Linked DNA regions of Homo sapiens. The protein of the gene in region 4 purifies or fractionates together with the protein of the main gene of each other region. This does not show direct contact. Each region holds a gene or a part of one and is shown on either strand. Other genes may lie near its edges. The genes, in order: RHOC, MSN, EZR and ARHGDIA.

The links.
Region 1: the proteins of ARHGDIA (region 4) and RHOC purify together in Homo sapiens (affinity purification with mass spectrometry; 4 studies listed by BioGRID and IntAct, with this or other methods). This does not show direct contact.
Region 2: the proteins of ARHGDIA (region 4) and MSN purify together in Homo sapiens (co-purification; 2 studies listed by BioGRID, with this or other methods). This does not show direct contact.
Region 3: the proteins of ARHGDIA (region 4) and EZR purify together in Homo sapiens (co-purification; 3 studies listed by BioGRID and IntAct, with this or other methods). This does not show direct contact.

What each region holds. Positions count from the first base shown.
Region 1 is NC_000001.11:112,704,128-112,712,043, forward strand, and holds the start of RHOC (rho-related GTP-binding protein RhoC precursor), read right to left. Parts: upstream 3,001-7,916; 5' UTR 2,951-3,000; intron 2,812-2,950; exon of another isoform or gene 2,706-2,811; intron 1,042-2,705; 5' UTR 973-1,041; intron 1-972. Other genes in the region: PPM1J (protein phosphatase 1J), read right to left, coding at 6,036-6,183, 6,333-6,484, 6,617-6,724, 6,881-6,944, 7,139-7,257, 7,844-7,916. UniProt on the Homo sapiens protein: Regulates a signal transduction pathway linking plasma membrane receptors to the assembly of focal adhesions and actin stress fibers.
Region 2 is NC_000023.11:65,662,898-65,670,665, reverse strand, and holds the start of MSN (moesin), read right to left. Parts: upstream 3,013-7,768; 5' UTR 2,825-3,012; coding exon 2,813-2,824; intron 1-2,812. UniProt on the Homo sapiens protein: Ezrin-radixin-moesin (ERM) family protein that connects the actin cytoskeleton to the plasma membrane and thereby regulates the structure and function of specific domains of the cell cortex.
Region 3 is NC_000006.12:158,774,355-158,781,370, forward strand, and holds part of EZR (ezrin), read right to left. Parts: intron 2,151-7,016; coding exon 2,054-2,150; intron 1-2,053. UniProt on the Homo sapiens protein: Probably involved in connections of major cytoskeletal structures to the plasma membrane. In epithelial cells, required for the formation of microvilli and membrane ruffles on the apical pole. Along with PLEKHG6, required for normal macropinocytosis.
Region 4 is NC_000017.11:81,868,338-81,876,280, reverse strand, and holds the start of ARHGDIA (rho GDP-dissociation inhibitor 1), read left to right. Parts: upstream 1-4,943; 5' UTR 4,944-4,983; intron 4,984-5,283; exon of another isoform or gene 5,284-5,645; intron 5,646-6,323; 5' UTR 6,324-6,350; coding exon 6,351-6,540; intron 6,541-6,655; coding exon 6,656-6,739; coding exon of another isoform or gene 6,740-6,874; coding exon 6,875-6,951; intron 6,952-7,044; coding exon 7,045-7,108; intron 7,109-7,205; coding exon 7,206-7,405; coding exon of another isoform or gene 7,406-7,916; 3' UTR 7,917-7,943. UniProt on the Homo sapiens protein: Controls Rho proteins homeostasis. Regulates the GDP/GTP exchange reaction of the Rho proteins by inhibiting the dissociation of GDP from them, and the subsequent binding of GTP to them.

The DNA.
Region 1 (7,916 bases), on a different chromosome or scaffold from region 4:
GGGATGCGGGACGTCCAGGGAGCAAGCTTCTATCTACTTCACACATCAGGGTTTCGAGTCAGACTTCATTGGTTACCAGGATTTTGATGCATTTACAGTTTAATAATCTCTAAGGTCCAATCTAGAACAGACTGTCCCTCAGCACAAGTCATACCTGTCCAGTCACAAATGAGGAGTCCCTCTCTAGGACCAGAGTAGCAGAACCAGCTACCAGGTGGTAGGTGGGTAAAGGAAGAATAGTTATAGAGCCCCTAGGTGCCAGGCACTCTGTCGGGCATTTTGGCAGGAATTATCTCCTTCGGTACCCAGATGCCTGGAAGGTAGATGGTGCACTTTCCATTTTGACAAACCAGGAAACTAAGGCTCAGTGAGGTTAAGACAGATTCAGAGCTGTGGCTTATAAGGGGCAGGGACAGCACCCAAAGCAGGACTGTGTGACTCAAAGTCGTGCCTCTTCGACATGTCACCTCAGGGGCAGGAGGGAGAGCAGAAGCAGGGAAACCCAGACAGAGGACAGGGGTAGCAGCCAGCCAGCTTCCCTGGTCCACCCCACCCGGTCCCCAAAGCCCCAAGTAATACAAAGGAGGCTCAGTCCCAGCAATGCCCACAGCTCGAGTTTGGGCAGGCTGCCTTCCTCCCCCCTTCCTCCTAGGCCTGCCAGCAACACTGGGTCACTCAGCCCCCGGCAGGGGACAATGACCACACTGTAGGGAGCCACACATCTACCACAGCACAGTGACTGAGAAGAATCCACCAGGGAATCACCTCCACCCACTCTGGAACAGCCCCTTCCTCCCTCAGTCCAGCTCACCCGCATGCCCTGCCCACCCCTCCCTGTGACTCAGGGCAAGGAGTCAGCTTCCCGGGCTTCCATGTGTCCCCCACCCCCAGCACACACAGCGAGCATCTGCACAGTTCATCACACCTTCGCAGCTTCCCTCACTTCCTCCTTCCCTGGGGAGGGGAACTGACCTCCAGCCGGCTGAAGTTCCCAGGCTGCAGGAAGAGAGGGCGGGCTCTGGAGCTGAGATGAAGTCAAGGCTGTTGGGAAGGGGGAGGGGGCTAGAGTCTGGGCTGGGAGGAGCCCCAAAAGAAGAGACAAATGAGGGCCAGTCCCAGCACCAACCAGGCAGGGAGCAGTTAAGAAAGCGACGGTAACCTGATCTCAGCCTCAAACCTAGCTTTTTCTCTCAGTCCCACATCCTGTCAAACTGGGCTGACTGAACGCCTCTACTCCCCACACCCCACCACCACCTCACACTGCCCTTTAGGAAGCGAATACTCCAGCCCCAGGCCTCTTCCCTTCAACATAGATCCTGAGTGGCCCTTCCCTTGCCTCCAGACACATTCACAAAACTGTTGGTTTTGTGGACATGAGTCAGAGAATTTACAGGAGTTCAAAGTACACAGCCACACTCTTCCCACCACAAAACGGACTCTCTCTGATTCCCCAGAAGACAAGCAAGAAGGCATTCACCCTGTCGGCAGATCGCCTCCAGAAATGGAAACCATCCTCCAAAAAGAGGGTTCCTTGGGAATTCTATCCCGGTGACTGACGCTGGGATTTCTTCCAACTCCTCCACCCACTCCATTAGTTCACCTTGCCCTGTTTTGTAAAGATGGGCTGGGGTAGCCCCAACCTGGGGTGGGCAGTGTTGATGGAGGGCAATCACTACTGGGGTGAAAGCCAGTCACTTAGGCATGAGTATGCCACTGCTGTCCCCCCAGCAGGGTAATTCAGACGGCACCAGAGTGGTGGGAGGCAGAGGACAGAAACCCGGGGTTGAGGCATGCGTTAAGGGACCTGGAGCCTCCAGCCCAATTAGAAGACTTTCCCTCCAGGCTATGATTGGGCCAGAACAGCAGGCAGCCCAGGCCAGGACACTAGGCCCAAGGCCAAGATGGCATGGACAACTCCCTGTGAGAGGCAGCCCCAGAGGGACTGTCCCACTGACCCCTTAAGAGGGGCAACTGAGCCCCACACAGGGCCTGGAATGGAGCCTGGAACTTCTGGGGCCTTCCCCAAGACAAGACAGTGTGGCTACATCAGACCTCTCTCCAATCGCTCTCTTGAATTCCCAGATGATCCAGAGCGGCCGGTTGACTTTGCCGGCCCACCCTACACCTAGGGAAGGAATCCGTTCTGGAGATACCAAGAGATACTGCATTCTCAACTTTAAAACCAGAGTGAGGGCGGGACTCGGCCTCGGGATCCCAGTCCCAAACCCCAGGATACTCTTTCTTGGTTCGAGTATGAAGAAGGAGGATTCTCAATCTCATTTTCTCTCTCTCTCTCTCTCTCTACACACACACACACACACACACACACACACACACCACACACACACACACACACACACACACACACACACACACACACACACACACACACACACACACACACACACACAGAGTTGGATCCTTCCCCATCTCCCTTATCCTCAACACAAGCGGGCTCCAGGAACCGTCCAGGGCGGCGTCCAGACCCTGCCGAGCAGTGGCAGGCCCCAATGGTCACATCCCGCCCCTATTCCCGCCATACCTCCCTCCTGGCCTGGAGGAATTCCCACCCCATCCCACTCTAGGTCCCCTGCGGCCGCCCACCCTGGGGGCTGGGGCGTCTGAGTTGAAGTTCCCTCGCCCCTCGCCCGGCGGGGCAGGTTCCGGGAAGCTGGGAGGAGAAGGGAAGGGGCTCCGACTCGGACCTCAGGAGGCCAGAGCCCCTGCCGGCAGGTCCGGGCCCCCTCGCTGCAGCCCGGGGAGGGGCCGACGCGGTCCGACCACCGCCCAGCCCGGATGCCGACTCCGCTTGGAGGGAACGGGGTCCACGCCCAGGCCGAAGCCCCTCCTCGCACGGGCCCCGATCTCCGGGCCAGCGAGGAAGGGAAAGTGCTCTCCTGGGGACGAGTTCCCAAGACGCCCCACCGCCCGCAGCCCCGGCCCAGGGTACCTTCCGCTCCGCCGCCTCCAGCTGCGCGGCCGGTGCCGGAGGCTCAGACTGACCCCAGGGCCCCGCCCCGCCCTCCTCCAGCGCCGCGGCGGGGAGGGCGGGCCCGGCAGGGGGAGGGTCGGCCGGGGGCGGCCCTTGGCTCGGCCCGCCCCGGCCCCGCGCAGGGCCGCAGCCACCGGCCCCCTCCGCAGGCCGGGGACTGGGGGCCAGGGGCGTCCACCCCTCCAGGTCGGGGAGAGCCACGGGGAGATTCCTGGACTGCGGAGGAGCCGGGCGAGCGGGGGGAGCACGACCCGGGTGGACTCAGACTCTGCCCAGCCTTCAATCCCCTAGGGGAGGACCGGCGTCGGGAAAGTTAAGAGGTGCTCGGGGTGGGGTCAGGAAGGGCCGCTGCTGCCCTCCTGTGGCCAAGCGGCCACCCGCTCCTGCTGCACCTGGGACCTCGCGGGAAGCGGGACTGGGAAAGGGTATCCGCCGGGAGGTCCCAGGGCCCGGCGCGGGTGTGTTGGTTGGGGGGAGATGTCCACCCTCTTGTTCCTAGGATCGTACAGCCCAACGTCATCCCCCAAACTTGAAGACCTCTCAGAGCCGTTCAGACCCAGACCACCGTTCCTCCTCACAATTCGCTTTCTTCCCTGGGCCTGGAATTTCCAGGAGTCCAATTCCTACCTACTCCTCAAAGGGTGCGCCTAGAAATGCTTCTGGATCCCAGCTGTGAATTCTGTTCCCACTCCTAGGTCTGACTTGGCGCATAGGATATTTACCTACACGCGTATCTCCTTTCCCTGTAAGGGAGCTGAGGAGGTGGGAGTAGAATGAGGACGTCCACCAACATTTCATTGGCTTGTGCTTGGGACACTACACAGCTTAACCCTTTCAATATTCATCACAGATCTCTGGGGAAAATATACCCATCCCCTTTTGCCCATAGAGAAGCTGAGGTTCAGAGAAATCAAGTGGCTTACACAACTGTTTTTGACTTGTGACAGCAAGAATTCACACAGCCGGGCCTGTCTGGCTCCAAACTGGTGGTCTGGCCCTGCTACCTCACGGGCTCCTCCAGCCTGTCCCTTCCCCCGTTGTCTAGCAGAGTGAGTGGCACATAATAGGTTGTCAACAAATATTTGATGAATGAATGAATGTTAGGAGTCATACAGACTTTAAATATCTGAAGTGCAATCCAGACATTTGACAAATGTGAAAACAGGTCCGCAGCAGTTTGGCCCCAGGCCTCTTAACTGACTCAATGAACATTTCTCGAGGGTGAACTGAGAGCTATGTTCGGAAGATCCATTTCTGCCTTCAAACAACTTAGAGTCTAAATGAGGAATGCAATTTCAAGATAGCTAACATTTATTGAATCCATATTACATGGACCTGGGTCCACATACATTAACTACAAGAATCCCATGAGGTAGCTATCTCCATTTTACTGAGAAGCAAATTGAGGTTCAGAGAGGTTACAGAGCTAGTGCTGGGTCTGACACTAGAACCCAAACAGCTGAACTCTAGAGCCCCTGTTCTTAATTCCTACTCCCTACTGACTCCTAATGTAGACAGTTACAATACCGGAGGTCATTGCTGTAGTGTGGGCATGTGTGGGCTGTGCGATACCCAGTCCTGAACAACAGGTGAAGTTCTCAAGATAAGGTGATGTGTAGATTTTTTTAATTTTAATTTTTTTTTGAGACAAGGTCTCTGTTGCCTAAGTGTGCAGTGGCAAGATCTCAGCTCACTGCAGCCTCAACTTTCCAGGCTCCAATGATTTTCCCACTTCAGCTTCCCCAGCAGCTGAGACTACAGGCGTGTACCATCACACCTAATTTTTGTATTTTTTGTACAGATGAGGTCTTGCTATATTGCCCAGGCTGGTGAGGGGCCTTTTCTAATTATTTTGCTCATCTTTATTTTTGCTTCCCTTAACTTACTTTGGGTTTAATTTGCTGTTCTTTTTCTAGCCTCTTAAGGTGGAAACAGATCACTGATTTGAGATCTTTATTCTTTTCTACTATAAGCAATACTCTTAATTTCCTTGGATGCTTAACTGCTTCCCACAGGCACTCACCACTACATTCAGCTAATTTTTTATTTTTTTGTAGAGATGGGGTCTCACTATTGCCCAGGGTGGTCTTAAACTCCTGGGCTTAGCAGTCCTCTCACCTCTGCCTCCCAAAGTGTTGGGATTACAGGCGTGAACCACCGTGTCCAGCAGTAGATTTTGAATAAGTTGGAGCTACTAAAAGCCCACAGTTATGCAAACCCCAGGAAGTTGGTGGTGGTGGTAAAAAATGAAGCTGGAGAAGGAAGCAGTGGCTGGATCATGAAGGTCCTTATATGCCATGCACAGGAGTTGAGTGTTGATTTTGTTCTAGGCGCAATAAGGAGCCACTAAATTTAGGAGGCCAATATAGTAAAAGGTGGTGGTGACTGAAGGCGGGGAGAGATGGAGATAAGTAGAGAAATACTTTTAAAGGTCTATAGTCAACAATACTTAGTGATCAATTACCTTGATGAGAAAGAAATGAAAGCCAAGGGTGACCAACTCCAAGATTTCTAACTGGAGCAGCAGAGCTGGTGCCCATTGAGGGGATATACCAGGAGAAGGAACATGCTATGGAGGGCAGTCGTGAATTTAGTTTGAGGTATTTGAATTGAAGTGCCAGCAGGCTATCCAGGAGACATTCGGGAGATGACTGGTATGTGTGGGTCTAAAGCTCAGGAAGGGTCTGGGCAGATGGGTGAGGCCACAGAAGTGGATGATGACACTCACAGCAAATGCGTGGAGTGGAAAGAGTGGGGGTGGAATAAAGAACCTGGGGGACACCACATTTCTAGAACTGTTCTGGTGCTCTTTCCACCACCCCACAGAGCTTTCTTCTTATCTTTCAGTTTCTAGTCAAAGCAAATACAGACACACACCTTTATCCATCTCGTTTATTTGCCAATAGCTGTAATTTTGGATATAGCGGACATCCCTTCTTCAGTTAAGTTGCCACTAAAGAAGGGTCAGGGAGACAACTTCAGAATTTGGGCTGTGAGAGGAGTAAGTATGGAGAGGCTAGTGGGAGGGATGGTGTTCAGCCCCTCAGGAGTAACTGCCTGGCCCTCCCAGGGGGATGACGAAGACAGAGATGTCATCCCCGGAACCCAGCTTGTTGTTGGGGAGACGCCAGCCACGGTCTCGGGGGGTACCCCGGGCCCCCAGGACCAGAGCTTGGGCCAGAGCTGTATACCTGCCAGGAGCACACATGCACATTCATGTACCAACATGTATGTGGGAAGACAGATACACAGGCCCACATGTGGGGTCCCAAGCATTGCTTCCCTTTGACCCTTCTTTCACCAATGCCATCCCCTTACCACCATGCCATGCAGCCCCTACCTGCTGTGGTCATTAGGCTCATAGGCCGACAGCACCCTGTCCACAGTGGCAGCTACCTCACAGTCAGTAGTGACATCCCACAGGCCATCTGTTCCCAGGACTAGCACATCATCTGGGCAGTGCTCATATTGTGTCAGGTCATACACTCGTACCTGGTGGGAGAAAAGGGCAGAGAGGATTGAGGTGTGGGGTTTGCTGGACAGGGAGCTTGGAGATAAAGGGACTGCAGATGAAAGCTGGCCTGAGACTCCCAGAGAAGGCAAGGTGTGGTTTAAGGGGCTCACCTCAGGGAAGCAGGAGAGAAAGGGCTTGATGGGCAGGGTGGAACTGCAGACCTTAAGGCTGTGGTCTCCCAAGCCTCGGGTCACCCCAATGGTGGCCATCACCCGAGCCTGAAAGAAATGAGGAGGGAGTGCCACTGTAGTCCTCTGCTAGATTCTCTGAAACCAAAGATCCCTTCCACCCCTACCCTCAGGTAGAACCTCCACCTCCCTAGACAAGTTGTGATAGGTCCTCCTCCCCTCTCCCACCTCTACCATGGAGTTTACCTTTTTGCCCTCCCCACAGACCAGAGGAAACCTGAGATCCTCCAGCTCGATCTTTTTGTAGGCCCTGGGGAGGGGGGAGTAGAGGAGGCATCACCCAGGCATCAAAGCCCCTCTCCCCTAGGAGCTGCATACCCTCACACAAACCCCTTAGAAGGGCCACATCCTCCCAACTCCCAGCCTCCAGCTTCCACCTTGCTGCGGGCGAGGGACTGGTTGTGTTGCCATGGGAACGGGCCCCAGCTCTGAGGGAAGTGTTACCAGCCGGTCATGTTCTGGTCCCGGTACAACATCCTCTGCCCCAGCTCCTTGGGCAGAACTCTGCGGGGGAACTCAAGGTGGGTGAATTCACTGCCTAGCAGCTCTGGTTTCAGGAAGCCCTGGAGTTGGGGATGATCAGAACAGAGAGCCAGGGGGCATTATGCTCACAGCACACGGTGGCACACAGATGACGTTGACTACAGCAGACCCTTAAACAGAGTTTACCATGTGCCACACGTTATTCTAATATTAGCAAATATTAACTCATTTACTCCTCACAACAGCCCTTAAGGCAGGAACTATTGATGCACAGAGAGGTTAAGGGAGGGAACTGCTCCGGTCACACAATTAGCAAAGCACTCAGACCAGGATGCATCCCGGGCTTCCAGCTCCACAGCCACATGCGTTTAGGCACTAAGCCGGACTGCCTTTCAGGGGCCTTTGCTGTTTCCTTCCCCCACCTCAGTCTCTACTTCCTGCCTCAGCTGGGGCCACAGTGGGAGCACTGGACCAGCCCAGTGCTGCAGCCTCCCTGCTGCAACCTCCCACCGGCTCAGCCCCGCACTCCATAGTCCACACAGCGGCCTTCCCAGTAAAGTGCTTTCTGTGCCTGTGGTGGGGGTGTGAGAGTTCTCAGGGCCATGGGGTGCAGGGAGGCACAAGACCCGACAAAGAATGGGGGTAGGGAATTTGGTTCCTACTTACAAGCAGCTGAAGACGCTGGCGCTCAGTCTCCGGGGTAAACTCCCGGGACATTGGAATGATTTCACCATTCCGG
Region 2 (7,768 bases), on a different chromosome or scaffold from region 4:
CTGCAACCTCCGCCTCCCAGGTTCAAGCGATTCTCCTGCCTCAGCTTCCCGAGTAGCTGGGATTACAGGCGCACACCACCACGCCCAGCTAATTTTTGTAATTTTAGTAGAGACAGGGTTTCACCATGTTGGTCAGGCTGGTCTCGAACTCCTGACTTCATGATCTGCCTGCCTCGGCCTCCCAAAGTGCTGGGATTACTGGCTGGAGCCACCACGCCCGGCTGGCGTGTTTTAACAAATGTAGGGGAGGTTGGGCTGACTAGGAGGGACAATTAGCTATAAAAGTGAAACCGACCCTAGATAGGTTGTAGACATGCTGCAATATGAATGAACGAGTTTGATTTTCCACTACCTTTCTCCATCTGTCACACGCTAGAAATAGCCTAAAGCACATAAATGAAAATGGAGCAGAGAAAGGGAAATTTTTTCCCCTTTTAATTAAAATTACTGGTTGGTATTCAGTGAACTAGGGTGTGCCCCTGAACACCTTGGCCTTGGTATGAGGAATAAGAAAAGTAACAGAAGGCACCTGGTGACACTACCGAACCTTACCAGGAGACCACACAAATGTCAACCTTGGCCACTTTGCTCAAATTACTCATTTCCTTTTATCTGAGGACCATAAAGGTCTGAGAACAGTGGGCAATTTGTTTGGAGCAAGAAAGGGAACTCAAATGTCAAGAACTCAATCATTGGGTCAGAATAAAGGGTCAATGAGATGAGCATCAGAAAGCCTGGACCCCAATCTTGGCTCAGTCACCATGTGCCCTTAGGTAGGTCTTTCCCTGTAGGTCTCAATAGCCTCATTAGATTTTTGTTTTAGTTTTAGTTTTTTTTTTTAAGAGAGTTGTACTAAATAGTCTCCAAGGTCCCTTTCAGGTTAAGATTCTATGATCTTAACAGACATAATATAGTTGCTTTTCCTAAAAGTTGACCATTCCTTGAGTCAAAGTATAGAAAATTCTCTAATACTTCCAGTCTATCAAAATTCAGCCCTCTCCTTCCAATTTGATTCAGGTTTCAGTCAATCTGCATAAAAATGCCTTCAGTATTTAGGTACCCTCATTACTCCAGGCCTGACTACAAACAGCTTATACTCCATTCTCTCTCCATTCCCAGGAAAACAATAAACACGCTGTCTTGTCTTCTTTGCCACTTTGACTCAGATGAGACGGTTAATGCAAGTTTGAAGCAACTTCCAGGCCCATGAAGCTGTGTTTCAAAGTGGGCTATCTCAGAACTGAGGATGAGATATGCCACTACAGAAGAAAGACCGTGGAGCAATGTCTATTCCCAGAGATCCACCCAACTGTTCAGGCAAAGCCGCACCTTAAGAGGAGTCAGGAGTCAACCACAGAGAGAGACCCAAAGAGCCGCTCCTGACAGGATCTTTATAATCTTGTTTTGGCAGACAATGGGATATTTTCCCCTCTCTCCAAAACCATTACTCTCTCTCTTTGGGGGCGGGGACTAGGGAACAAAGTGTGTAAAAGCCTCATGTCCTAAAACCACAAGCAATTTAAAGGAGATAGACAGTGAAAGCACATACTTTTTGAAAACTTGGTGTTTCTGAAGGACAAGGTTCTGGAAAGGCAAGAACGACTTGGCAGTGAGGCTGGTATACAGTAACGTGGCAACCAAAGCTCATCACAAACCCAAAAGGCTGGGCCCCCAACTCTCCTCCTCTCATCCCAGGGGACCTTCAGCCCTTTTCAAGGCTACTAGTCACTATCTCACCTCTACAAGGCTCAAGCAGTCCTGGGGAGACATGTTTGGGAGCACTGCATTGCCTAGGCCAGCTCAACAAGCTGTTTGGCCTAAGGGACTCAAGCCAGGGTGGTCACCAGGCCTTTCTGAGCAAGGGAAGGGCCTCAGCAGCCATTTGGCATGACTTGCACAAAAGCAAGCAGAGCTCATTAGTCAGGCACACCCCTCCTCCCCTCTCCCTCCTGGGCATCCGGCCCCCCTATCCCCACTCCCAGGAGGCTTCTGTTCCTCTCGTAACAGCCAGTGGGGTGGAGACGCATCCCCAAATCAACCACCACTCTAGAAAGGTGTGGCCCCACGAGAAAACCCACACCACACAAAATAGTCCGGAGGGGATAGGAGGAGATAGAGAGGCATTAAGCAATAGGAGGGGCAGGGATTTGGAGGTGGAGAGGAGGGAGAAACCGGTCCTCTCTCCCAGGAGATGGGGTAGGCCTCTCCTCAGACTGGTGCCTAAATAAGTGTTGGTGCTCTCGGGTGCAGCCTCGATGACGATTTCCTCACATCTCTCTCCTCACCTCCTAGTGGAAAACAGCTGGAGCCACCCGGTGAGGCTGTGGGAAAGATGAGTGGGGGTGCCGGATCCGCCCCGAGCGGCTCCCTCCTTTCTCCCTGCTTCTCTGTTCCCATGTCCCCTCTTGGACATTGGCAGCCTTGCCCCAGAAAGGTGCCAATTCCTGGGTTGGGGAAAGTGTTGTCTTCTGGACCAGAATCCTCTCCTCTGTGCCCATGGCCCATCAGGGAAAAGGGGAAACCCCAGGCCCCAACGAAGCCGTCCTGACTGTTGCATCTCAGACACAGGGAACTGGAACCTGAGAAAGAGGCAGGCCTCGCCCCGTCCAAACTTCCAGCCTGGACACCCCCTCAACCCCTGAGGGCGCACCAGACCAGGATCCCACTCCGGTCCCCTCCCTACCCTTGGCTATGGCGGAGGGCGCGGCGTCCCAGGCGGGCCGGTGGCTGGCCAAGCCCTCAGCCATCAGCAAAGGGCTATGAGGCTCAGCCAGAGCCATTGGGGTCGACAGCGCCCACCTCCGGCACTCACCGTTTTGGGCATGGTGGCGGCAAAGGCAGCGGAGTTGGCGAAGTTTAGCTAGGACTGTCGGGCAGTGCTGAGCACGCAGTACACACGGCTTGGATTCGGCTGGCCGGGGACTCAGATTGGGTCCCTCACTAGCGTCGGGGCGACTGTTAGGCTTCCTGCTAACGGGCCACGACTTCACAAACCCCACCCAGGAAAGAGCCGCCCCTGTCGCGCCGCCCGCTCCTTTATGTGGCCCGGCTTCCGCGCCGCTCCCCGCCCTCGCGCCCGCCTCCCCGCCGACCGCTGGCCTTGCCCCGCCCAGCCCCGCCTGGCCAGGCCCGGCGCAGCCAGGCCACAGCGGCCACGTGGGGGGCCCGGCTGGGCCCGGGCGGACCTAGGGTAGCTACCACTCCCCACCCAGACCCACCCGGCTCCTCTCCCACCCTGGTCACAGCCCCTAGCCTTCCACGTCCTGGCCTTCCAGCCCCACCCCCACTCAGGGCCCAGACCCTGGGCCCTGACAGATGCTTACTCAGCCCCTGACTGCAACTTTCCACTGATGGGGAGCTCACTACCTATCTTTTCCTTCTCTAGACAGCTCTGGCTCTTAGAAAGTTCTTGCCGTGTCTGAACTCCTTTTCTCTATGGCTTCCATCCATGGATCTCAGTTCTGCTCCCTGAGGCCACACAGATCCCCTGTTGTCCCTAACAGCTCCTCAAAGGCCTGAAGATCTCAGGTCCACAGGAAACTTCTCTTCTTTTGGCTAAACTGCCTCACCTCTTAAAACACTTCATCCATTCTCTTCCGTAGGACTCTCCCCATCATATTTCCTACCCATCCTTGCTCAGTCCTCATTTATCTTTCCTTCATCTAAATCCCAGTCTTCACCTTCCTCAAATCAGTGACCTGATCCTTTAGCCCCTCTCCCAGTACATTCACTTTCTGATGTCCTGATGGGGCTGGCTATAATTCCCTCAGGTTAGATGTGACCTCCCTAGTCCACACCCTTGGGGTTTGTCTGCCAGCTCCCTTTCTCCTTCTTGTCAAGGTCACAGAATCCCAGGATGGCAGTGTTCTAGACTGTTGAAGTCGTCTGGTCAAGTCTGAGTTTTAGGCTGAGTGCGGTGGCTCATGACTGTAATCTTAACACTTTGAGAGGCTGATGCAGGAGGATTGCTTGAGCCCAGGAATTCGAGACCAGCCTGGGGAGCATATCAAGACCCCCTCCCATATCTATACAAAAAAAATAAGTGAGAGCCGGGCATAGTGGCTCACTCCTGTAATCCCAGCACTTTGGGAGGCTGAGGCGGGCTGATCACCTGAGGTCAGGAGTTCAAGACCAGCCTGGCCAACATGGTGAAACCCCGTCTCTACTAAAATTACAAAAATTAGCCGGGCACGTGCCTGTAATCCGAGCTACTCGGGAGGCTGAGGAGGGAGAATCGCTTGAACCCGGGAGGCGGAGGTTACAGTGAGTCAAGACTGAGCCAGTGCACTCCAGCCAGGGCAACAGAGTGAAACTCTGTCTCAAAAATAATAATAATAATAGTAAGTGAGACCATGTGCAGTGGCTTACACCTGTAATCCTACCACTTTGGGAGGCCAAGACCTGCAGATCACTTGAGGTCAAGAGTTTGAGACCAGCCTGCTCAACATGGCGAAACCTCATCTCTATTAAAAATGCGAAAAAAAAAAACAAAAAAATTAGCCGGGTGTGATGGCACGTAGTTCCAGGCACTCGGGAGGATGAGGCAGGAGAATCGCTTCCGGGAGGCGGAGGCTGCACTGAGCCCAGATTGGGCCACTGCACTCCAGCCTGGGCAATAGCACAAGACTCCGTCTCCAAAAAAAGTAAAATAAAATAAGTCCGAGTTTTAGTTTGAAAGTGGCTGGCCATAGTCCTTTTTTCCTCCTCTCCACTGGCAACCATGTGAAGGCATGGTCTGAGTATCCTTTGTGAGGTAAGGCACCACAGATGGTAAGCCAGTTTGAGACAATGGAAAGGATACTTGAGAGGTCAGGACACCTGGCTTCTACGTATAGCTCTGCCATTAACTCATCCTATGACCACTATGTGGCCTTGGGTAATTCCCTCCCCCTCTCTGGGCTTGAGTTTCCATTTCTGTAGCAAGAAAGGACTGGACTCCGGGGCTTCCAAGGTCCTTTCCCACTCTGACATTATAAAGGGATGAGAAAGGAAGTATACTCCCTAGGACAATAGATGAGCCTAACAGGATTGCATATGGGCTGGTCTTGCATTTGCACTCAGGAACCAGTAGTCTGATTCCATCCTCTTCCTTTGCCTTCCCAGACCAACAGTGTCCACGATTCAGTGTGCCTCGGTTTCTCTCACTGCTAACAAGATTCATTGATGTGTGCTAGGGTAAACAAAGTTCCCTGCCAAGATCATTTCCTTGAGCTAAGCATTTGTTCAAAGAGCAGCACTCATCGGAAAGCCCAAACAGTCTCCATGAGCAGTTGTCCCCAAGGAAGAGCAGCACTCACCAGAAAGCCTCAGCAGCAGGAGTAGCAATGACAGCTCATCACACGCCTTAATACTGCCATTGGCCCTTTTCCACCAGATGTTCAAGGAACTCAACTGATTTCTTCACTCATGTTCACCTAGAACCTACAGGGACCTGGCATGAAGCTAAATGCCTAAAGACAAAGAATTTACTTGGCGACTCCAACTTTCTGGAAAGTGGAAACTCCCTTGTGTCATTCCCCACCTCCCATGCCAACCACTCCCCACAACACACATACACAGGGGAGAGTTGGGTAGAGAGTGTCAAGTAGCTGAAGACACTACTAAAAGGGAAACAAGGACCAGGTGTGGTGGCTCACACCTGTAATCCCAGCACTTTGGGAGGCTGAGGCAGGCAGATCACTCGAGGTCAGGAGTTCAAGACCAGCCTGGCCAACATGGGAAAACCCCATCTCTACTAAAAATACAAAAATTAGCTGGGTGTGGTGGCATGTGCCTGTAATCCCAGCTACTCGAGAGGCTGAGGCAGGAGAATTACTTGAACCCAGAAGGCAGAGGCTGCAGTGAGCAAAGATCATACCACTGCACTCCAGCCAGGGTGACAGAGCAAAACACTGTCTTAAAAAAAAAAAAAAAGAAAGGGGGCATAGAAGTCCAAGCAGGGGCAGGGGGTGTCAGAGGCTCGGGGAGCTAAGAAATAGGGGGAAAGGGGCTGAGGGAGAAAGATGAGGTTGGACCTCTGGGGAGGAGAGGATGGGAAATAGAGAGAGAGCATAAACTATCAGAGACTAGTTAGTCCAGTCTCACTCCAGGTCAGGAGAACTGGGGATCAGAAAGAGGAAAAGACTTACCCAAGGCCAGATAGCTAATGTACAGAAGACAAAGAGCTCAGTTAAGAAGCTCTGGCAATAGTACAAGCAAGAAATTTTTTAAATATTATTTTCTCATGTTTTATTTTAGATACAGGGGGTACATGTGCATGTTTGTTACATAGATATATTGCACTCAGGTAGTGAGCATAGTACTCATTAGGAAGCTTTTCAACCCATGTCCTCTTCCCTCCCACCTCTAGTAGTTTTCAGTGTCTGTTGTGCCCATGTTTATGTCTGTAGGTGCTCAATGTTAAGCTCCCACTTATAAGTGAGAACATGCGGTATTTGGCTTTCTGTTCCTTCACTAATTCACTTAGGATTATGGCCTCCTGTTCCATCCATGTTGCTACTAAGGACATAATTTTATTCTTTTCTATGGCTGCATAGTATTCCACGGTGTATATGTACCACATTTTCTTTATCCAGTCGACTATTTCTTTCTTTTTTTTTTTTTTTTGAGATGGAGTCTCACTCTGTCACCCAGGCTGGAGTGCAGTGGCGTGATCTCGGCTCACTTCAAGCTCCGCCTCCCGGGTTCATGCCATTCTCTTGCCTCAGCCTCCCAAGTAGCTGGGACTATAGGCACCCGCCACCATGCCCGGCTAATTTTTTTTGTATTTTTAGTAGAGACGGGGTTTCACCATGCTAGCCAGGATGGTCTCGATCTCCTGACCTTGTGATCAGCCCACCTCGGCCTCCCAAAGTGCTGGGATTATAGGCATGAGTCACCGCTCCTGGCCTTAGTTGACCATTTCTTTATCCAGTCAACCATTTTCTTTATCCAGTCAACCATTGATCATGGGCACCTACATTGATTTCATGTCTTCGTTACTGTGAATAATGCTGCTATGAACATGCAAGTCCATGTGTCTTTTTGGTATAATGATCTATTTTCCTTTAGGTATATACCTAGTAATAAGAATGCTGGAACAAATGTAGCTCTGTTTTAAGTTCTTTGACAAATCTTCAAACTGCTTTGCCCAGTTGCTGAAGTAATTCACATTCCCACTAACAGTGTATAAGCATTCCCTTTTCTCCACAGCCTCGCCAGCATTTGTTGTTTTTTTTGACATTTTAATACTAGTCATTCTGACTGATGTAAGGTTACCACCTTACATCTGTTAGATTGTGGGTTAGATTTGCATTTCTCCGATGGTGAGTGATGATAGGCATTTTTTTTTCATATATTTGTTGGCCACTTGTATGTCTTTTTCTGAGAAGTGTCTGTTCACGTCCTTTGCTCATTTTTTTTTTTTTTGAGACAAAGTTTCACTCTTGTTGCCCAGACTGGAGTGCAATGGCGTGATCGTGGCTCACTGCAACCTCCACCTCCTGGGTTCAAGTGATTTTCCTGCCTCAGCCTCCCGAGTAGCTGGAATTACAGGTGCATGCCACCACGCCTTGCTAATTTTTGTATTTTTAGTAGAGACAGGGTTTCAGCATGTTGTTCAGGCTGGTCTCGAACTCCTGGCCTCAGGTGATCCACCTGCCTCAGCCTCCCAAAGTGCTGGGATTACAGGCGTGAGCCGCCACGCCTGGCCCTTTGCTCATTTTTTAATAGGGTTATTTATTTTTAGATTATTGATTTGTTTAAGTGCCCTATAGATTCTAGATGTTAA
Region 3 (7,016 bases), on a different chromosome or scaffold from region 4:
GATCCGGCTTAGTTTTTAATCACAGCTGTACTGTTAAATTTACTACCAGGAAGCATCTCAGTTGCCTTTTTAACCCTTTCCTTCACGTAAATGTAGGCTCACCAGGGTAGGAGCTTTGCCTTGTTGATGGTGCACACAGCCCTGGAAGAGTGCCTGGGACAGCGTGCCACCAGCGAATGTTTCTTTTGCTTACGAGATGGCTTCACATGAGGCTACTCTATAATAAAGGCACATGCACGAGATGCGTTACAATGGCTTCTGCTTGGGGCTTATTATGAAAATATTCTTCAGCTTTTCAAGAGATGGACTTATCATCAAACACACACACACACACACACACACACACACACACACACACACGCACAAACATTCTGAAACAGTCTAGTCCAGAGCTGCTGCTCTAGTCAAATTTTTAATAAGTGTTCTGAAAAGGCAGTAGCGTCACAGAGTACGTAGTAGCCTACTGATGAAGAGATTTCAGCATTTTCTTGCTCTTCTAAACTGTGCCAATCTTACTACCCAAGTGACATGAAGACGCTATGACCCTCCATTCATGCTGTTGCATAATATGAACTGCTGCCATGGAGCCTTAGAGTCTGCATTCAATACGCGTTTAATTTTAAATAACCGTGCAACTACCCACAGAGTAGCAGCCAAGAGTTTGCAAACAGCAGGAGCCCTTTTTTTTTTTTTTTTTTGAGACGGAGTCTAGCTCTGTCACCCAGGCTTGAGTGCAGTGGCGATCTCAGCTCACTGCAACCTCTGCTTCCTGGGTTCAAGCGATTCTCCTGCCTCAGCCTCCCGAGCAGCTGAGATTACAGGCGCCCACCACCACGCCCAGATAATTTTTGTATTTTTAGTAGAGATGGGGTTTTCACTGTGTTGGCCAGGCTGGTCTCGAACTCCTGACCTCGTGATTCGGCCATCTCAGCCTCCCAAGGTCCTGGGATTACAGGCGTGAGCCACTGAGCCTGGCCAAGACGTTTTTAACAAAGAAGAAAATACTTTCACAAAATTGTCAAGACCTGCTGATTTTAAATTATGCTAGACAAACCTGTATGTGGGGAGAAGTAACAGGACAATAACACCACATACTGTTCTAAGTGGATTTACCATTGCTAAGCAGTACCCAGTCCCAAAAGGGTTAACAAGACAACCAAGGTATGGACCACAGCCCATGTTTGCCTCTCCAAGCTTAACACTGTAACTAAGGAACCAAAATTACATGAGAACACAAAGTCCTTTCCAATCTATAATTTTCGTAAAATTCAGAACAGGCTCTAAGGTGGTAACAGAATTTCTTCAGGTGGCAATTTTTTAGAGAACTAGATTTCTGATTAGATAACAAAATCCTTACCCATTCTACAATGCTACAGTTATGTGCGTATGTCTCAAATATTCTGAGTTAACAAAAGTTTAAATGTCAGCAGAATAAATAAAACCAAATTTACATAATGCACTGGTCTTTGCAGCTATTACAATCAATACTATCAGATTTCAGGACATAAAGTGTCGCCTTCTTACCATGTCCTCCCAAAATGACTGCCTGCCAGTGTCACCTGTGTGAGGATGCACACCTCTGACAACAGAAGTGGGTGAAGCCCCGATGAAACCTTGGGCACCAGCAATGCTTGGGTGCAAGTCTGACTGTCCCTATCTTGGGTAAGTTCCAGGACAGCTCTGAAAGGCAAATCTGGCCCTTGAGACTCGCAGGTCCCACTGTCCGTCAGGTGCCGGGGAGAGTCCCTGCACCCAGGTGGTCAAGGGGACAGGCTGGCTCTCCACACCAAAAACACAGCATTTTGGGAAATGCTTATCATTTGGCCAATGGCTCAGAACTGCCCTTTTCTTCATAAGGAATGAGAATCATTTGAAAAGTTAAGTGGTCTCCCCTGCAGCAATTGCCTGGCCCACAGGATCTCTGGCCCTCAATGTAACCTCATGAGGAGTTTGGACTATCACTGGCTACTCGTCACAGTATAACTTGTCCGTTACCCTGACAAGTATAAGAATGAAAAACAGTAGCCCCTGAATAGAATCCTTTGGAACTTACAGGTGCCTTCTTGTCGATGGGTTTAATGACAAACTTTTTGTCATTGAAAGAGATGTTCCTGATTTCACTCCAAGGAAAGCCAATCTTTGGGGTTAACCTGAGGTTAAAAAGAAGAAGTGGATGGTTAGATGTATACATATGTTCTTGGATTGGCTAAGAGAGATTCGCAAATCAATTCTTATTAGTTCAATTAAAATAATATGAAGCTAACCCAAGAGGCACAATGTGTTATATGCTATTATCAAATAGTTCCCACCTGTCCTAGGTTAAGCCAAGTGGTTGGCTGCAAGGCATCTGCAACCTTAATCTGTTCCCATTTCCTTTGGTTTTTCCTCAGTCTAGGGCACCTATGATTACCCAGGCTGGTGATCTCGAGGTCAACTGAAATTCCTACCCAGGTACCTTGACCCTCCCCCTCAGGTATCTTCTGCTGTTCATTCCCACATCACATCACCACACTCACCTACCTCTCATCCTGCCAGAGCCCACTCTCAAGCTGTGTGCTGGAGCAGCCCTACTTTCAGTCTGCTGATCTGATTAATTTCCTCTCCTCCCATGTCAACACAGTCCTTAACTCAGCATCCAAGAGCTGTCAAATCCAGCCCCAAACTCCACGGTTCAGACCCACCTTTCAACACACAGTTCCCCAGGGCTGCCTCCCTTTCCCTTGAGGCCTCTCTTAACATACAGGCTCTTCTGCTACAGACTGTTGAATGTTATTTAAGTTACTGATCATTTAGTTCTATGAAACCAACAGGGAGGGCCAAGATCCCATCACGTTCCTAGACGTGCCATACTCAACAGAGCTTGCCAAGAGAAACGGACAGAGGCCTTGCTATGCATTCTGCTCCTCTGGTTCTCATTCCAGTGTGTGTTCTCCTGGCTGGACAGACATCTTCCCATGTCACTCTCCAACTTCCAGGACAGCCTTCAAACTAACCGCCCTAATGAAGGCCCCACAGGGCTAATCCTACTTAACCAATGCAATGCCATGACTGGCCAGACTCTGGCTTTTATTAGCATTCCCAAGTTCATCATGTGACTTCAAGACCACATTGCTCTGCTCACCTGACACTTCCCACCCTATTCTTCCAACACATTTTACCAGGGATAATGCCATTCTGGAAATAACGACAAATCCTCAAAACCACCATCCAACAATGCTGCCCTCCAAAGCAGTCCTTTCCAACATCCCACAAAAACCTTCATTTTAGAAGTAGCAGGAAGGTCAAGCAATCTATGGCCTACCAACAGCTTCAATACTGATGAGCAATACAGGTTTCGTTATGATCACATCAACTAGATCAAGGCAGTGGGGTGGACTCTGTAGGCTGAGGGCAAACATGTAAGCCTGACATGGCCCTTCTGGGGAATTAGCGCAGTCAGTCATGGTGTGCCTGCAGGAATGATGGCAGGACACTGGCCAGACCATGGTTCTAAATGTCAAAGCTTTTGTATACATCCTTTCTTTTACAGTGCTATGCTCTAGAATCACCAATCCCCATTAAAAAAAAACACACCTGGCATTCAAACAGACATGCAATGAGTTTGTTCTTTTATCTTCGAGATGTAATTTTCTTTACAGGTTTCAGAGCATTAAAGGGGAACTCCAGATACCACCTTGCCCTGCTACTGACTTCAGCCTATGTCCTCCTTACATTGAAAGGCTGTGAAAGTGGCACCAGGTAGGCATGTGTTGCTTCTGGAGCACTTTCTCCCAAAACACAAGAGCAGCCTGCTGGCACCAACAGAGAAGCTAGGATCCAAGCTCCGGAGGCTCCGCCCACAGCACATAGCACTGTGAGCCAGCGTGCCGCATCCTGAAACTTCAAGGGGCTGGGATCCCCTCTCCGGCTCCTGTCTCTACACAGGACTCTCAAAACAGGTTCTGACCTTAGAAAATTTAGGCCTCCGGCTCTCTGGTGTGCCTAGAAAGTTTTTCCTCTTAGGACTTTGAAACCTCATATAACAATTCATAGCCACTCATAAGCATAACTGCAGTATCAAAACAAAAAGGTTAAACATGAAAATTATGACTCACTTTTGAGTTAAAGAACTTTTAATTCTTGACCAAAGTTGGAAAATTAAAGCCCAAGGATTTCCTTTTTCCTAAGAGATCACATATAGGACATGAACAGGGTCTACAGAGAAGGTGGCCACAGGGTTTATAAGTGTCCTTGCTTAGGCCACACATTAAAAAAGCGTGATTCTCCAATAACAGGGACCAGACAGAGGCCTTTGGAGAAATGGCTGATTCCAGGACTAGAACAGGGAACACAAAGGATGAACCTGGTGCATCTCGAGGAGCCAGGCAGCAAGGAAGCCTGCAAAGAATGCAGGGCTCACACTTCAAGGTGCTCCTAAAGGCCAAATCTCAAACAACCTGAGCAAGAAGATACATACTCATAGATCATAACCCAAAGACCGAAACACATATCCATGAGTCCATATTAATATAACTGAATAAATGGAGAACAGAAATTGGCTCCTTATAGAATTCCAATTAATACACGTAAAAAGTTTTTAAAAATCACAATTTCTCAAATACCACAGTAATCTCATCAATGGTAGCTAGAACTAGGACATCTACATAGTTTAAAATTATCTCCCCCAAATATACTGACCAATTGTAAAGGGAAGGATAGTGATTTTACAGTGGAGAAACGTGGCAGACACCACCTTAACTAATAATCAAAATTAGCACCACCTAAGATAAGATATACCGACCACATGTGCCACCTTGAAAGAGGTCCTGGAAGGGCAAAACAGCACTTTATTCTTACCAAAAATGTAAAACTCCAAATAATGAGAAAACACCAGACAATCCAAGCTGAAGGGCTTTCCAAAGTCAATGGCCAGTACTCTTCAAAAATACCAAGGTCATGACAAAAAAAGACTGGAACTATCCCACATCGAAGGAGACAGGGAGGTCTGACAACTAACTGTGTGGCTCCAGAGAGGGTCCCGGGGCAGAAATAGGACATCAGTGAGACAACTGATTAAAATGGGAATGAGGTCTAGAGACTGCTAATGTTAATTTTCTTATCTTGGTATTTGGACTACGGTTACATAAGGTGTTAATGTTTGAGGAAGCTAAGTGAAGGGTATATGGGAATTATTTGTACTATTTTTAGAATCTTTTTAAAGTTTGAAATAATATATATATTTTAAATTGAGATGGGGTCTTACTCTGTCACCCAGGCTAGAGTGCAGTGGCACAATCTTGGCTCACTGCAGCCTCCGCCTCCCGGGCTCAAGTGATCCTCCCACCTCAGCCTCCCAAGTAGCTAGGACCACAGGCATGCACCACCACGCCCAGCTAATTTTTTGTACTTTTGGTGGAGACGGGGTTTTGCCATGTTGGCAAAGACCAGCCCAGGCTGGTCTTGAACTCCTGAGCTCAAGGGATCTACCTGTTTTAGCCTCCCAAAGTGCTGGGATTACAGGTATGAGCCACCATGCCCAGCCTGAAATGACTTTAAAATGCAAGAATGGGCCAGGCATGGTGGCTTACACCTGTATCCCAGCACTTTGGGAAGCCAAGGTGGGCAGATCATTTGAGGTCAGGAGTTTGAGACCAGCCTGGCCAACACAGTGAAACCCCATCTCTACTAAAAATACAAAAATTAGCCAGGAGTGGTGGCATGTGCCTGTAATCCTGGCTACTCGGGAGGCTGAGGCAGGAGAACCGCTTGAACCCAGGAGGCAGAGGTTACAGTGAGCTGAGAATGTGCCATTGCACTCCACCCTGGGTGACACAGTGAGATTCCATATCAAAAAAAAAAAAAAAACCAAGAATGATTAAAAAATGTAAATCCAAAATATGTAGCTGAGTGTGATAATGTTCTACATGTCTTAAGATTTTGCATTTTTCAGGCATATTTGTCAGAACTCAACAAATGAACACTTAAGATTACATTTCATTGTATTTAAATTTTACATCAAAAGAACAAAACATAACCAACCTCTAGTATATCATATGCACTTTCATTTTGAGGAAGGATATGGATGCCTGCAGTTTTCTTGGAAATGTGTTAGAGGGCCAGAGGGTGACAGTGGAGTGCATACGGAAAGAGACGTGAGAAAGCAAGCGAAGCCCTGAGTACCTATCCGCAAGGAATTTAAAGAAGAGACATGTTCTGTGGCTCCTGTTTCAGTCCCCAAGCTCCCCGTGCACCCTTTCCCTTTAAGGTGGAAGCCCTGGACCTAGTGCATTTCCAGAAACTCCTACCTACAGAAGGACTTCTATGATGAAATCTGCCCAAAGAGGGATGAAGCTAAGGGAGAAAAAGTGCTTTTACAGGACTAAAGATCAGGTTCCTCTAGTTTTTGTTAGTTTTTGTTTTTGGTCCGAGTGTCAGGTTTCAAATTGTAACCCAGCTAAACTGAACTTCCTCTGTTCACAAGCTTACAATGCCTGTCAGGAGGGCGCTTACCTGTTTTTGCCCTCTTTATACTCCCACCTATTCCAAGCTAAGGGTTTAAAGAAAGATGACAAATAGTCCTACATGCTCCCACTTAATGCTTATGTGTACAATGAAAAGGGAACCCCAAGAGACAGATTTCCCAGCCAGACCCTATTTAATACTAAAACAGGTGTTTTAATAGAGACTTTACTTGCAGAGTATAAATCTCTTAGAGCTCAATTTCCATATTCAATAGATCAGCTTTCTCACCTGAACAATGTTTCAGGCATATCTAATTCTCCTAGTTCTACCGAGAGAGGTAACAGCGCAACAGCTGGCGAGTTCTCAGCACTCCTCAGACTTCAGGACAGTCTCCTGCTTATGCTGCTACCAAGTTGTCAATATTTGTTCAAAAGGGAAAGAATTTGGGCCTATTAAATGACTGAATATCTACATAAATGCTTTTTTCATGAAGAGAGGGGTGTGCCTTCAGGAATGGGGAGAAGAGAGGCAGAAAGTGAGCCTGCCCAACACCCCAGCATGCTCTGTGGGGAAAG
Region 4 (7,943 bases):
GAGGCAGGAAAATTGCTTCAACCTGGGAGGTGGAGGTTGTGGTGAGCCAAGATCGCACCACTGCACTCCAGCCTCGGGAACAGAGCAGGACTCCATCTCAACAAATAAAAATAAACAAGGTTTTTAAATAACAAAATTATTTTAAAAGTTCATCCTTTTAGTAATGCAAGAAAGCCAGTTAATGTGATGCCATCATTTTAGGACGTAGCATTGGCAAAGACATATATGTCTGTCTGTCTTTTTTTGTCCTTTTTTTTTTTTTTTTTTTTTTTTTGAGAGACAGGGTCTCTCTGCTGCCCAGGCTAGAGCGCAATGGTGCCATCTCAACTCACTGCAGCATCTGCCTCCCAGGTCCAAGCAATAATTCTGCCTTAGCCTCCCGAGTACCTGGGATTACAGGCACCTACCACCAGGCCCGGCTAATTTTGTATTTTTAGTAGAGATGGGGTTTTTACCATGTTGGCCAGGCTGGTCTTGAACTCCTGACCTCAGGTGATCCATCTGCCTCAGCCTCCCAAAGTGCTGGGATTACAGGCGTGAGCCACCGCACTTGGCCTTTTTTTGGTTTTTTTTTTTTGGAGACAGAGTTTTGCTCTTGTCACCTAGGTTGGAGTGCAATGGCGCTATCACGGCTCACTGCAACTTCTGCCTCCCGGTTTCAAGCAATTCTCCTGCCTCAGCCTCCTAAGTAGCTAGGATTACACGCATGTGCCACCATGCCTGGCTAGTTTTATATTTTTTAGTGGAGACCACGTTTCACCATGTTGGCCAGGTTGGTCTTGAACTCCTGACCTCAGGTGATCCACCCACCTCGGCCTCCCAAAGTGCTGGGATTACAGGCATGAGCCACCATGCCCAGCAACAGGATCTCCTTTTGTCACCAAGGCTGGAGTGCAGTGGCATGATCACAGCTCACTGCAGCCTTGACCTCCCAGGCTCAGGTGATCCTCCCACCTCAGCCTCCAGAGTAGCTGGGACTACAGGTGTGCGCCACCATGCCCAGCTAATTTTTGTAATAAACCCTTCGATTTACATGAACAAAAATTTTTTTTTTGAGATGGAATTTTGCTCTTGTTGCCCAGGCTGGAGTGCAATGGCACGATCTTGGCTCACTGCAAACCTCTGCCTCACGGGTTCACACCATTCTCCCACCTCAGCCTCACGAGTAGCTGGGACTACAGGCATGTGCCACCACGCCCGGCTAATTTTTGTATTTTTAGTAGAGACGGGGTTCCACCACATTGGGCAGGCTGGTCTCAAACTCCTGACCTCAGGTGTTGCGCCTGCCTTGGCCTCCCAAAGTGCTGGGATTACAGGCGTGAGCCACTGCACCCGGCCTATGGTGAATAAATTTTCAACAAAGGTGGTGAGACATTGCATTGGGGGAAACGATAGTTTCTCAACAAGGGGTGCCAGGACAGGTGGATGTTCCTACACACAGAAAAGATGTTCACTCCATACGAAAAGTTAACCCAAATACGGACTGTATATCTAAATGTCAGCAAACATAAAATATAGCAGAAGATCACAGAAAAAATATGAGAGAGAATCTTTACAATATCCGGTTGGGCTAAGAGTTTGTTTTTGAGACAGGGTCTCTGTCACCCAGGCTGGAGTGCAGTGGTACAATCATAGCTGACTGCAGCCTCGACATCACGGGCTCAAGTGATCCGCCTACCTCAGCTCAGGAGTTCTTAGGATAGCAAAGGCATGCACCATGTGGAAAAAACTACTGCACTAGAATAAAAGGTTTTGCCCTTAAGAAGACATCATTAAGAAAATGAAAGACAAACCACATAAAATGTCTGCAAATCACCTATCTTTTTCTTTTGGAGACAGAGTTTTGCTCTTGTTGCCCAGGCTGGAGTGCAATGGGGCAATCTCAGCTCACTGCAGCCTCTGCTTTCTGGGATCAAGCGATTGTGTTGCTTCAGCCTCCCGAATAGCTGGGACTACAGGCGTGCACCACCACACCCGGCTAATTTTTGTATTTTTGGTAGAGACAGTTTTTTTGCTATGCTGGCCAGGCTGGTCTCAAACTCTTGGCCTCAGGTGATCCGCCTGCCTCGGCCTCCCAAAGTGCTGGGATTACAGGCGTGAGCCACTGCACCCAGCCTCATATATCTGATAAAGGACTGTATACAGGATATGTAAGTACTCATAGCTTAATCAGACAGCCCAATTAAAAATGAGCAAAAGATTTAAATAGGTTTCTGCCCAGGAAGACTCATTGGGGAAGTGCAGGTGCGACTCACAGTGTGACACGACACTGCTTCACACTTGTACAGCTGGGATCAAGCACAGCAGGTATTGCTGAGCCTGTGGCCACCTGGAGCAGCCCAGCGTTGCTAGGGGGTGCAAAGTGGCACACCTACATTGGAAAACATTTGGGGACTTCCACTCAGGAATCTACCCAAGAGAAATGAAAGCACATATTCATGAAAAGGCTTAATGCAACATTTATAATGGTTTATAATATTCGTAAATGTTTATGGCAGTATTATTCATAATGGACAAAAAAGAAACCAAATATTTGCCAACTGGAATGGTTACAAACAAAATGTATACCCACACAATCGAATCTTTTATTTATGTATTTATTTATTTATTTTGACAGAGTCTCGCTCTGTCGCCCCGGCTGGAGTGCAGTGGCGAGATCTCCACTCACTGCAAGTTCCGCCTCCCGGGTTCACGCCATTCTCCTGCCTCACCCTCCCGAGTAGCTGGGACTACACGCACCTGCAACCACGCCTGGCTAATTTTTTGTATTTTTAGTAGAGACGGGGTTTCACCGTGTTAGCCAGGACAATCTCGATCTCCTGACTTCGTGATCCGCCCGCCTCGGCCTCCCAAAGTGCTGGGATTACAGGCGTGAGCCACCGCGCCCGGCCCAACAGTTTTTTTTTAAAAGCACTTGGGTTATTGGAAAGTTGGGCAACATGATCACCTGCACAGGGGCTCTGAGTCTTTAACAGTGAAGCATTTCACACCTGATTAGGAAACGCTGTGCTGATGACATGGCACTGACAGTGTGACTCAGTTACAGAAACTCTCAAATATCCCTCCAACATTCAGAAATTTTCAAAAGACACCAAGCTCGGTATTTTGCATAGTTCTGTCCCCAAAAATGCCCTCCTGTGTTCATGTCTGTGTCTGAACAAAGCAGCTGTGCGTGTGTGTGTGCGTGTGGTCTCCACTTCTCTTGATCAGCCTGGGTTGCCTGGCAGTATGGGCCAAACAGACAGGGCCCTGTCTGCATGGAGCTCAAGAGTGATTAAAAGAGGCTGGGTGGCCGGACATGGTGGCTCACACCTGTAATCCTAGCACTTTGGGAGGCTGAGGCAGGAGGATCGCTTGAGCTCAGGGGTTCAAGACCAGCCTGAGCAACATAGTGAGACCCTGTCTGTACAAAAAATAAAAAATTAGCTGGACATGGTGTTGCACACCTGTAGTCCCAGCTACTCGGGAGGCTGAGGTGGAAGGACTGCTTGAGCCCAGGAGATAGAGGCAGCAGTAAGCTGAGATTGTACCACTGCACTCCAGCCTGGGCAAAAGAGCAAGACCCTGTCTTGAAGAAAAAAAAAAAAAAAAAAAAAGATTGGGCACCCCGGTGGTTCATGCCTGTAATCCCAGCGCTTTGGGAGGCTGAGGTGGGTGGATCACCTGAGGTCAGGAATTCGAGACCAGCTTGGCCAACATGGTGAAACCCTGTCGCTACTAAAAATACAAAAATTAGCTGGGCATGTTGGCTCACACTTGTAATCCTAACTACTCGGGAGGCTGAGGCAGGAGAATCGCTTGAACCTGAAAGGTGGAGGTTGCAGTGAGCCGAGATTGTGCCATTGTACTCAAGCCTGGGCGACACTGAGACTACGTCTCAAAAAAATAATCAATCAATAAATAAAAGAGGCGTCCACGTTAACGAGTCCACAGTCCTAACAAGTGCTGCAGGCTGGACGCGGGGCAGCGTCCCACCCAGTGTCTGGTGCAGGGCATTTAGGGGCTTGGCCTCCAGGAGAGGCGAGCCCGGGGCTGGGTGCGAGCACTGCTGCTGGGCCAGGCCACTCACGTTATGCGGCCGTTCCTGATACTTCAACACGGCCCTTGTGGGCGAATGTGTGGAATCTCGGAACAAGCGGAGTGGGGAACAGGGCTCTGCGGTGAAGCCCAGGCTGAGGCAGCCCCTCATCTGCTCACGGTGCCAGGAGCTCCCTGCCTCCTGGTCCTGAGGAGCCGCGGGATTCCTCAGGGACACTAGGGCCTCTGCAGCGGCGCCTGCGCCAGGCAGCCACGCGCGCTGCGCACGAATTCTGTCTCAGCCTGGAGAAAAACACCTCCGCTGCGCCCTCGCCCAGCACCAGCTTTCCGCGGGGCGTGCAAGGGGCTCCTCCTAGCCCCACAGCCCTGTCTTTCCACGGGGGACACCAAGGCCCTGGAACGGCCCGCGCGCCAGCGCTCTCGCCCGTGTTTAACGAGAACTTAATCCCCGTGCCCGTTACCTCCCCGAAGTCCCGGGACTAGGTGACTAGGCCCCGAAGCAAGAGTCGCAGTCGGACCGACTGGGCCGGGGAGGGCAGCGCACTGCACCTGCGCGGGCTTCCACAGCCCACGCGGCCGCCGCAGGCCTCGAGTGGGCGCGGGTTGGGCAGCGGCGAGAGGCGGGACCGGACCTCGCCTCCCGGGTGCGGGCGCCCTGGGCTCGCGTAGGGAAGTGCCCTGGCTTACAGAGGTGACCACTGACGGGGCTTGGGGTGGAAGGTGACGACGCCAGAACCCACGCGGAACGCGCCCACGAGGCCCAGCCGCAAGATGGCGACGGCGTGCCCCCGGCCACCCGCGCGCCGCGCATGCGCCCTGGCCTTCCCCGCCCGAGTGAGCGGAAGTCTCGTGACCCCGGAAGTGACAGGCAGGGCGGGCGGGGCGGCCGACGACGTTCGTCATTTAGTGCGGGAGGGATCCTGAACCGCGCGGCCGAACCCTCCGGTGAGTGGCCGTGGCGGGGCGGAGGCGGCGGGGCGGAGGCGGCGGGTCGGGGCGGGGACCGGCGGCGCCGGCGGGGGCGGGGGGCGCTGAGGTGGGGGCTTCCGCCTTTGTTCGCGCCCCGCCCTGAGCCCGCGGCAGGGTCTCGGCGGGCGGGGGCGCGGTGACAGCGGGCCAGGGCGGTGCGGGCTAGGGCGGGGCCGGGGCGGGACCGGGCGGCGGCGGCCCCGGCCCCACGTGCGGGTCCCGGGCCGGAGGGGCGGCGGGGACCAGGGGAGTGCCGGCCCCTCCCGAGCGGTCCGGAGCTTCTTTCATGGCCGCCGAGGCGCGTGGGGCCCGGGCCAGACCTGAGGGCCCCTCCTTGGGGACGCGGGGGGCGCCGGGCCGGCAGCCGCGGTCCATCGCGTTCGGGGGCGACGCGGGGATTGGGGCGCGGCCTCCCCCAGCGCCCGGGCCACGCCCGGCACGGATTGCGGGCCCTGCGGAAGTGCGGGCCGCGCCCTAGGATCCCGGCGCCTACGGCTATCCTCGCGCGGCGCGGAGGCCCCAGCCCCTGGAGGAAGCAGGGCGGCCTGGACCCCGGCCTGGGTGTCCCGGGTGTGCTGCTCCCTGACCCACCTCCCACGCTGCCGGGAAGGATCTGAGCCTGACAGATCCCCTGCCGGGTCAGTGCTGCCCCGGGCACTCCGGGCCCACCATCTACAAGAGGGCCCGAGAGTACTGAGTGGCTGTGGTAGCTCCCAAGTTGTAGGTCACAGACCCTCACAATTGTGGAGAAACCGCAGATACTTAGGATCCCCGTGTCCAGGTGGCCCCGTGCGGTATTCTAGCTGCCCCTAACATCCGAGCTCCAGGGGCATCCTGTTTGAAAGATGACGCTGAGCCGACCACACACGTTTACATGTGACTACCACGGCCAGAGGAGCAACCCTACTGAGGGATACCGAGCCCCGTTACCCCGTAGGGCGAGGGCCTGGGCAGCTCAAGAGCGGCAAGACCCTAAGAGAGGGTTTAGTGTGGGCCCCGCCGGTTGATTCTGGGGCCTGCTAGCCCCGCCCCACACATACAGGGGGCTGCTGCCTCCTCCATCGTGGAGGGGGAGGTGTGTCCTCTCTCCCCATGATCGGCTGCAGTTCCCATTTTGTCTTAGATGTTATACCTGGGGTGGGGGCACCTCACACTGCCCCAGAGGATGCCCCTGAGCAGGAATCGCGGGGGTGGAGAGGAGCGAAGGTGGCCCCCTTGGAGCCCTTTTGGAGCTCCGGCTGCAGCCCACACTCCTGCTCAGAAGTGCGCCTCCGTTGGGGATCCAGGTCCAAGGCCTGTCACCGTCCCGCCCACAGGTGTCCCGACCCAGGCTAAGCTTGAGCATGGCTGAGCAGGAGCCCACAGCCGAGCAGCTGGCCCAGATTGCAGCGGAGAACGAGGAGGATGAGCACTCGGTCAACTACAAGCCCCCGGCCCAGAAGAGCATCCAGGAGATCCAGGAGCTGGACAAGGACGACGAGAGCCTGCGAAAGTACAAGGAGGCCCTGCTGGGCCGCGTGGCCGTTTCCGCAGGTGAGTCTGGGCTGCGGGAGCCGGGTGGCCGCCCGTTCACTCCAGCTGTCTTGCCGCTCCCCAGCCCCTACTTCCACTGGTGGGGGTGGGGCCCTCACCTGCTGTCACTCCCCAGACCCCAACGTCCCCAACGTCGTGGTGACTGGCCTGACCCTGGTGTGCAGCTCGGCCCCGGGCCCCCTGGAGCTGGACCTGACGGGTGAGTGCCCTGCGGCCGCGGGGGTCCGGGCGGCCCCTGGTGGGGATCTCGGGAAGTGCAGCCAGGGGGCCGCGCAGGGCTGGGGCTTCGCGCAGGGCTGCTGGGCAGTCATTGAGGGGGAGGTCCCCCCAACAGGCGACCTGGAGAGCTTCAAGAAGCAGTCGTTTGTGCTGAAGGAGGGTGTGGAGTACCGGATAAAAATCTCTTTCCGGGTAAGCTACAGGCTGCTGTGGCCAGGGAATGGAGGCGGGGCTGGGGCTGGGGTCCGGACCGACCTTCCCTGATCCTCGCTTCGGGTCCTGCAGGTTAACCGAGAGATAGTGTCCGGCATGAAGTACATCCAGCATACGTACAGGAAAGGCGTCAAGAGTGAGTGGGGCCCCGGGCAGGGCAGAGGGGGCCGCTTGGGTGCGTGCTGCCAGGCGGGGAAGCGGGGCCGCTGACCGCCCTCTTCCTTGTGCCGCAGTTGACAAGACTGACTACATGGTAGGCAGCTATGGGCCCCGGGCCGAGGAGTACGAGTTCCTGACCCCCGTGGAGGAGGCACCCAAGGGTATGCTGGCCCGGGGCAGCTACAGCATCAAGTCCCGCTTCACAGACGACGACAAGACCGACCACCTGTCCTGGGAGTGGAATCTCACCATCAAGAAGGACTGGAAGGACTGAGCCCAGCCAGAGGCGGGCAGGGCAGACTGACGGACGGACGACGGACAGGCGGATGTGTCCCCCCCAGCCCCTCCCCTCCCCATACCAAAGTGCTGACAGGCCCTCCGTGCCCCTCCCACCCTGGTCCGCCTCCCTGGCCTGGCTCAACCGAGTGCCTCCGACCCCCCTCCTCAGCCCTCCCCCACCCACAGGCCCAGCCTCCTCGGTCTCCTGTCTCGTTGCTGCTTCTGCCTGTGCTGTGGGGGAGAGAGGCCGCAGCCAGGCCTCTGCTGCCCTTTCTGTGCCCCCCAGGTTCTATCTCCCCGTCACACCCGAGGCCTGGCTTCAGGAGGGAGCGGAGCAGCCATTCTCCAGGCCCCGTGGTTGCCCCTGGACGTGTGCGTCTGCTGCTCCGGGGTGGAGCTGGGGTGTGGGATGCACGGCCTCGTGGGGGCCGGGCCGTCCTCCAGCCCCGCTGCTCCCTGGCCAGCCCCCTTGTCGCTGTCGGTCCCGTCTAACCATGATGCCTTAACATGTGGAGTGTACCGTGGGGCCTCAC